2 linked regions of the Homo sapiens genome follow. The protein of the gene in region 1 interacts with the protein of each later gene in a pairwise test. Each region holds a gene or a part of one and is shown in the gene's direction. Other genes may lie near its edges.

Region 1 (3,072 bases):
ATAAATACCATAAAGTAAACTAAAATGACACAGAGGAAAGTAGAGGAAAATGAAATAATTTCGGTACATCTTATGGTTTAAAGAGTAGAAAATAAGATGAAATATCCTAAAATATAGGAGCACAGACATTTAAAATTCATAATCAGGCTAACAACACTCTCTTGAATTTAGGAATCATTGAAAACTCCTTGCACTTAGATTTAATTTATATGTTAGTTACATTATTAAAAGTCATAAGGCATTTATCTGAGTCATTGCTCTACAGAGAGCAATTAATGGCTTGTAATAATAAAAAGAATATTTCTCTGTAATGCATTGTTGAAAGACAACCAGAATATCAAGAAAATGTATATAGGAATATGCTACTTGCCTCCTCCCTGCATTTCCTCGTGGGGCACTATTTGCGACATAGGCCTACAGAATTAGACTTTCATACTTAGAAGATAAGGTACACTCTTCTTCTTTTATTTATTTATTTATTTATTTTTAGGCCATTCTTCTGGTTTGCCAAATTCTATTAAGACAGTGATACATTTGCTTCCTTATTTATGCATGCTTAGATCATGAACATGATGCCCTTCTTTTTTTTTTTTTTCTTTGGTCAAGTAGGGATTAATGCCATAGGTTTAGAGAGAAGGATTGTTTTCAGTTTTTAAGAGAATTTTTTAAAAATACATTTTATGGTTCTCTTAAGGAATTAATATTCACTTCTGAAGGACTTACTTGTAATATATAATTTATCATTTTAGCCAGCAGGGAAATAAATCATTTTTAATCCCCAGAAGAAAGTGCTGGAAATAGCTTCTATATAGTCAGCAGTTCACCTGGAGAAAGATCTTAATTCCTTGTTGTTTTGACTAGGAATATCAATATTTGGTATAAAATAACTAGAATAGTTTATTACCTTTTCCCTCATGAAATTTTAAATATATGCAAATATATATATCATTAGATTCCTGTGGTGGATAATAATTTCTTCAGATTCTAAAACAGGTGTCTAGTGACTGCTTAATTGTTTCCAAGTTGCATCAAAGATGAATTGGTAAATAATGGAAATGAGTAGTGATATGAAAATGGTTATGTAACTACATATTACTTGTTTCTGGTAATCAAGTCTTATTTTTTAAAAGCCTATTGTTTTTCAGAATTGAGATATTTAAAACTTGTTATAACTTCTTCCTAAAAATAGAAGAGAAGAGGAGGTACTGTGTGTTACAAAAATTTTTTTAAATAAAGAATTCAGTGTCACTAGTTCTAAGCCTTTATGGTTACTGCTGCTTATATTTCTTGATCTCACTTTCATTAATTTTTTTGTACATATCTTAGCTGAATGCTTAAAATTTACAATTATTTGTAATTGTGTATGTAAATTGCTTTTCAAAAAGAACTGAAGCTTAACCATATTCTTCTTTTCTGAGGATTCATTATCAGAATCAGCTACTATACTGTTCTGTGTTATAGTAATGCCGTTACTGCCTGTGCATGATTGAGGTCTGTGAAGAAGGTGTCTTTTAATCTGCACCAACTGGCCCCAATCCTCTTTGTAGTCCTTTTTAAATTGTTTTAAATCTGTCCTTTATTTTTCTTCCTATTTTTCTGCCTCTTCCCACTGATGTCCAATGTGTCAGTCTTCCGCAGTTTCCTTTTCTCACTTCTAATTTATTCTCTCTTTTTTTTTTCTGAGGTTAGGGATTCTACAGAAGGACGATTATTAAAATTATGCCATGAATTTTTGAAAAATTTAAAATGCTCTCCTACAAATAAAATACATGGAGTTTCTGATACTAATTTCAGTTTGTCAGTAGATGGCTAAATTTGTTGAATAATTGACTACTTGGTAAATGAGCTGTTAGCTGTAATTAGTTCTTTAGTACTAATATTAAGGAAATTTTGTTATTTTCGGATGAGGACTCTCCCAAAGCCAAATTATTGTCCAAGCAAATTATTTATTTTTTCCATTTAAATTTCTAAGTCATTTTGAGATGTGGAATGATTATTTTTATTATTTATTTATTTATTTATTTTTGAGACGGAGTCTTGCTCTGTCACCCGGGCTTTAGTGCAGTGCACGATCTTGGCTCATTTCAATCTCCACCTCCTGGGTCTAAGCGATTCTCCTGCCTCAGCCTCTTGAGTAGCTGGGATTACAGGCATGTGCTGCCACACCTGACTAATTTTTAGTAGAGACAAGGTTTCACCGTGTTGGCCAGGCTGGTGTTGAACTCCTGACTTCAAGTGATCTGCCCACCTCAGCCTCCCAAAGTGCTGCGATTACAGGCATGACCCACCACACCCAGCCTGGAATCATTTTTTAAAAATAATTTGTGGGAGACTTGCTTTCTCAACATAAATTGTGTGTGGGTTGTTTTTTGTTTTTTGAGACGGTCTTCCTCTGTTGCCCAGGCTGGAGTGTGCAGTGGAACAGTCATTGCAGCCTTGACCACCTTGGCTCAAGCAATCCTCCTGCCTCCCGGGTAGCTGAGTCTACAGGTGTGTGCCACCATGCCTGGATGGATAGAATTTTTTTTTTTTTTTTTTTTTTTTTTTTTTTTTTTAAAGACACGAGGTCTCACCATGTTGCCCAGGCTGATCTTGAATTCCTGGGCTCAAGCATTCCTCCTGCCTCAGCCTCCCAAAATGCTGGGATTACAGGTGCAAGCCACCATGCCTCGTCTGTTTGCCGATTTAAGACAGGTTTATGTACATCATTATCATTAGAGGCACATAGAATCTAGACATGTACTTGAAACTTAGCTCTCTATCCTGAAAGTTGAAGTTAGGGTTCTTTGATCCTGGTGAGATGTTAATTGTAATTTTAATTTTCATATGTTAATATTGTGACTTGTATTTTGTGATGAGTCTCTAGAATGATTAAATGACTATTTTTTTATGAAAAATTTTTTGTTAATAAAATATCTGAGGGTATTTTGAGTATGTGGAAGGAATGCCTGAATAGAAGCTGATCTATCTTAACATACCTCAAGAACTCCAGTTTTAATATGGTGAGTGAGGAGTTGACTGGGAAAAGGAGAGATCCAATTCTTGTTCTAGTCCTTGGCACATACACTCTCT
Region 2 (3,500 bases), on another chromosome or scaffold:
TATAAGCCATACTGTTTAAAAATGTATATGAAGCCTGTATGTGTCATTCATAAAACTAAATAATTAAGAAAGTTGTGCCTTTTTGGAGTGGTACAAATTTGGTAAGTTCCTAATAATTATGTGATAACCCCACTAAAATATAAGCCCTGTTCTATAAGAGATGGATTTTTGTCTATTTTGTTCACTTTTCCCTGATGCATAGGAAGTTCTTACTACATATTTATTGAATGTATGACTCCTAAGTGGGTATATCCAGGTTCTTCTAGTAGTTCTTGTCTATAAAATACAATGAAAGTACAATATCATGATTCTTAACAGTGTAAAAAATAGAATTACTGAAATTGGGAATCTAGGATTCTTGCAACCTTATTAGTGTTATTCTTTTCCTTTCTTCAGGTGACTTGATGGAGGGTGAGCTCTATTCTGCTCTCAAGGAAGAAGAAGCATCCGAATCGGTTTCTAGTACCAATTTCAGTGGTGAAATGCACTTCTATGAGCTTGTGGAAGACACAAAAGATGGCATCTGGCTGGTTCAGGTATGAAAAGCAGTAATAATTTGATAATTCGAGAGCCCTAAAAAAATTATTTTTACCAAAATAGTATGTACCAGCCAGTGACACTTCCGTGTCCTTGTGTCTTGTTTCTCACACATAACTCAGTTCTCTTAGGGAGGCTCCAGTATCTTCTTAAAAAGGTTTTGGAGACTGAGGAAGATGAAAATTGAGTAGTGGGAAAGAGAAAGATGGGGGATGGGGGTCAACTTTTTGTTTAGAATCCCCAGAAGCAAATCTATTTTAGTTATTGGACCTTTGTTGAATTGAGAAATACACATATATATCCCTTTTATTTAGTGATTTGCACTGTTTCTCTTAGTTTTTATTATCTCCAGTTTTTAATTCAGTGGCCTGAGTAATTTTTATATATAAGTAAGAACCCTAAAGTAAAAGTAAAGGAATCATTGTATTAGGGAAATAGCCAACTTTGTGACTATAGAGGAGCTGTTGTGGAAAATGGTGGGGGTGCTCATTACGTAACTCAGGATGATGAGATTATAATTTTTAACCCTTGTTTTTATGATAGCAAAACTGTGAGACTTAATTAGCATATTAGAATTTTAGAGCTATGATGGACCTTAAAAATATTTTATGCTTTCCAAGATGTAATTTATGGTGAGTGGGCATGCATTATCATTTACATATTTTAATGTAAATTAGAAAAATTATATTAACATAAATTTCATAAATTTTGCTTAGGACAGGACTAAAGTTATTTACATTTTAAAACTGTACATTCAAAGTGACATATCAAGTAAATTAACAGCGTGAATGTGGCTAAAATTATTAATGTAGTCTGTGAATGGCTGAAGCTTGGAAATTATATCAGACTAACCCTTTCTGAGACTCTGAGAGGTGAAGTAGCTTGCCCAAGGTCATGGAACTAGTTGGTAGTATTGAACCAGGATGAAACCCAGGTCTTCTGATTTCTTGACTGGTACTCTTATCATTTCACACTGGAGTGGGCAAAGTTTGATTCAGGGCATGAAAATTAAAACAGTTTCTTCATATTTCTTTCTGAGAGTAAAGACTGCAAAATATGGTAGGAAAAGCTATGAGTTCAGAGACATTAGTTGCAGGTCTGGTACTGTCGCTGTTACAGGTCTGGTACTGTCACTGACTAGCAGTATGATTGTAAATAGGTATATTTTTCTGTTGCACGTGGCCTCAAATAAATACATATACATCTAAAAAGGATAAAATGGTACTGTAGTCCACTGTGCTAAAGGGTTGAGGTTTGGGAATTCTTCCAGAGATTTACATTGTTCATCCATGGCCTTTCTTTATTGTATCCTTCCTATTGCATTTGTCCTTTTACCTTCCGGATAATCTAATTCAGTAATTTTTAAGTTCAGCAATGGGAGAGAATGTGAGAGTATGAGTGTAGTCTATACATTATCTATTTAAATTTTAGTTTATTTCTGTGTCAGTTGGAGTTGAAAAATAAGGTGGAGCTTTTTTAAAGCTTTAATGTATAAGTATATTGTTATTCTGTTTCTTTTCTCTGGTACTTATTTCTAATAGTCTGATTGAGAAAGACACTGGTTTTGATAATTTTAGATTTTATTACTGAGGATGAATTGAATAGCCAGTCCCACTGCCCTGCTTTCAGTGTCTAAATGTCACCCACATTGAATGATCCCATGGAAATAAATGGTGAAGATGTTGCACACCTTTGAAACTTGGAAGGGCTATGTCAAAAGTCTTGAGTTCTTTTGCTATATAGGCTGCTGCCTATAGACAACAAATACATTCTGGTTCAATAGTTAGCAGTATGTTCTTGGCTTGTAAATGATCTACTGTTTTTGATGTCCTGTTAAAGATATCCATGAATTAAGCTCCTGTAATAAATATGTGACAGAATTCATCAAAAGTTTATTCAGTTGTGGGTGTGCCAGGCCCTGTTCTGGGCCCTGAAGATATACCAGAAACACACACCAAGCTAAGGCCTTGCTCTGTCAGGCAGCTCACATTCTAGTTGGGAGAGGCAGACACCAAATAAATAAATATTTAATATAACATCAGTTAGTGGAAAGTAGTAAGAAGAAAAATAAGCAGATTAAGGAGATGAGAGTGGCAAGGAATTCTCTGGTAAGGTGACAAATGAAGTGAAGGACAAATAATGATAGTAAATGGTAGCATTATAAATTCTAGTTGCTAAATTTTTTTTCTCTGAAAATATTTTTAAACCTTATAGGTATTAATAGTTGAAAAACAACTCTTTAAAAATAGAATGTATTTCTGTGGTTTTTCTATGTATGGAAATAATGCAGTAGGACACCTGCTTAATTTTTCCAGTGATGCTCAAGGTTTGCATTGACCACCACTGTCTGGCTTGTGTTCCTTGAGGCCAGTGGCTTACATCTGTCAAATGGCTGGCCTGGTCTGAAAGAACAATCTCTGGCAGGACAACTGAGAAGAATGAGATTGAAACCCTGTCCTTGGCACTGTGAACTAGCCAGCTAAGCCAATCAGCACAGCCACCTTGGTTTAAGCCCTTAAAAGAGGGTTGTACTTTTTAAAACTATGCTTAAAATTGAAAATATCTACTAGAAACAGAAGAGAAATATTGTCTCCATTGCTTGCCATTCTTTCAGCTCAGATCATATATATTAATCTATTGTAAAGGATAACTTTCAAGAATTGTTTTTAACAATTTGAATTGTTGTTATTTTCTGTTTACAGTAGTCCCCCCTTATCTGAGGGGGATGCGTTCCAAGACCCCCAGTGGATGCCTGAAACCGTGGATAGTACCAAATCCTATATAGTCTATGTTTTTTCCTATACATACATACCTGTGATAAAGTTTAATGTGTAAGTTAGGCACAGTAACAACAACAACTAATAAAAATAGAACAATTATAACAGTATACTGAAATAACATTTATGTAAATGTGGTGTCTCTCTCTCCGAATATCTAATTGTATGTAGTATTTTCGGACTGCA

Evidence for each region.
Region 2: the proteins of UBE2W (region 1) and RNF103 interact in a two-hybrid assay, tested with the Homo sapiens proteins (one large-scale study listed by BioGRID and IntAct).

What each region holds. Positions count from the first base shown.
Region 1 is NC_000008.11:73,788,791-73,791,862, reverse strand, and holds part of UBE2W (ubiquitin-conjugating enzyme E2 W), read left to right. Parts: 3' UTR 1-3,072. UniProt on the Homo sapiens protein: Accepts ubiquitin from the E1 complex and catalyzes its covalent attachment to other proteins.
Region 2 is NC_000002.12:86,617,366-86,620,865, reverse strand, and holds part of RNF103 (E3 ubiquitin-protein ligase RNF103), read left to right. Parts: intron 1-396; coding exon 397-536; intron 537-2,852; coding exon of another isoform or gene 2,853-2,855; exon of another isoform or gene 2,856-3,500. Other genes in the region: RNF103-CHMP3 protein, read left to right, coding at 405-536. UniProt on the Homo sapiens protein: Acts as an E2-dependent E3 ubiquitin-protein ligase, probably involved in the ER-associated protein degradation pathway.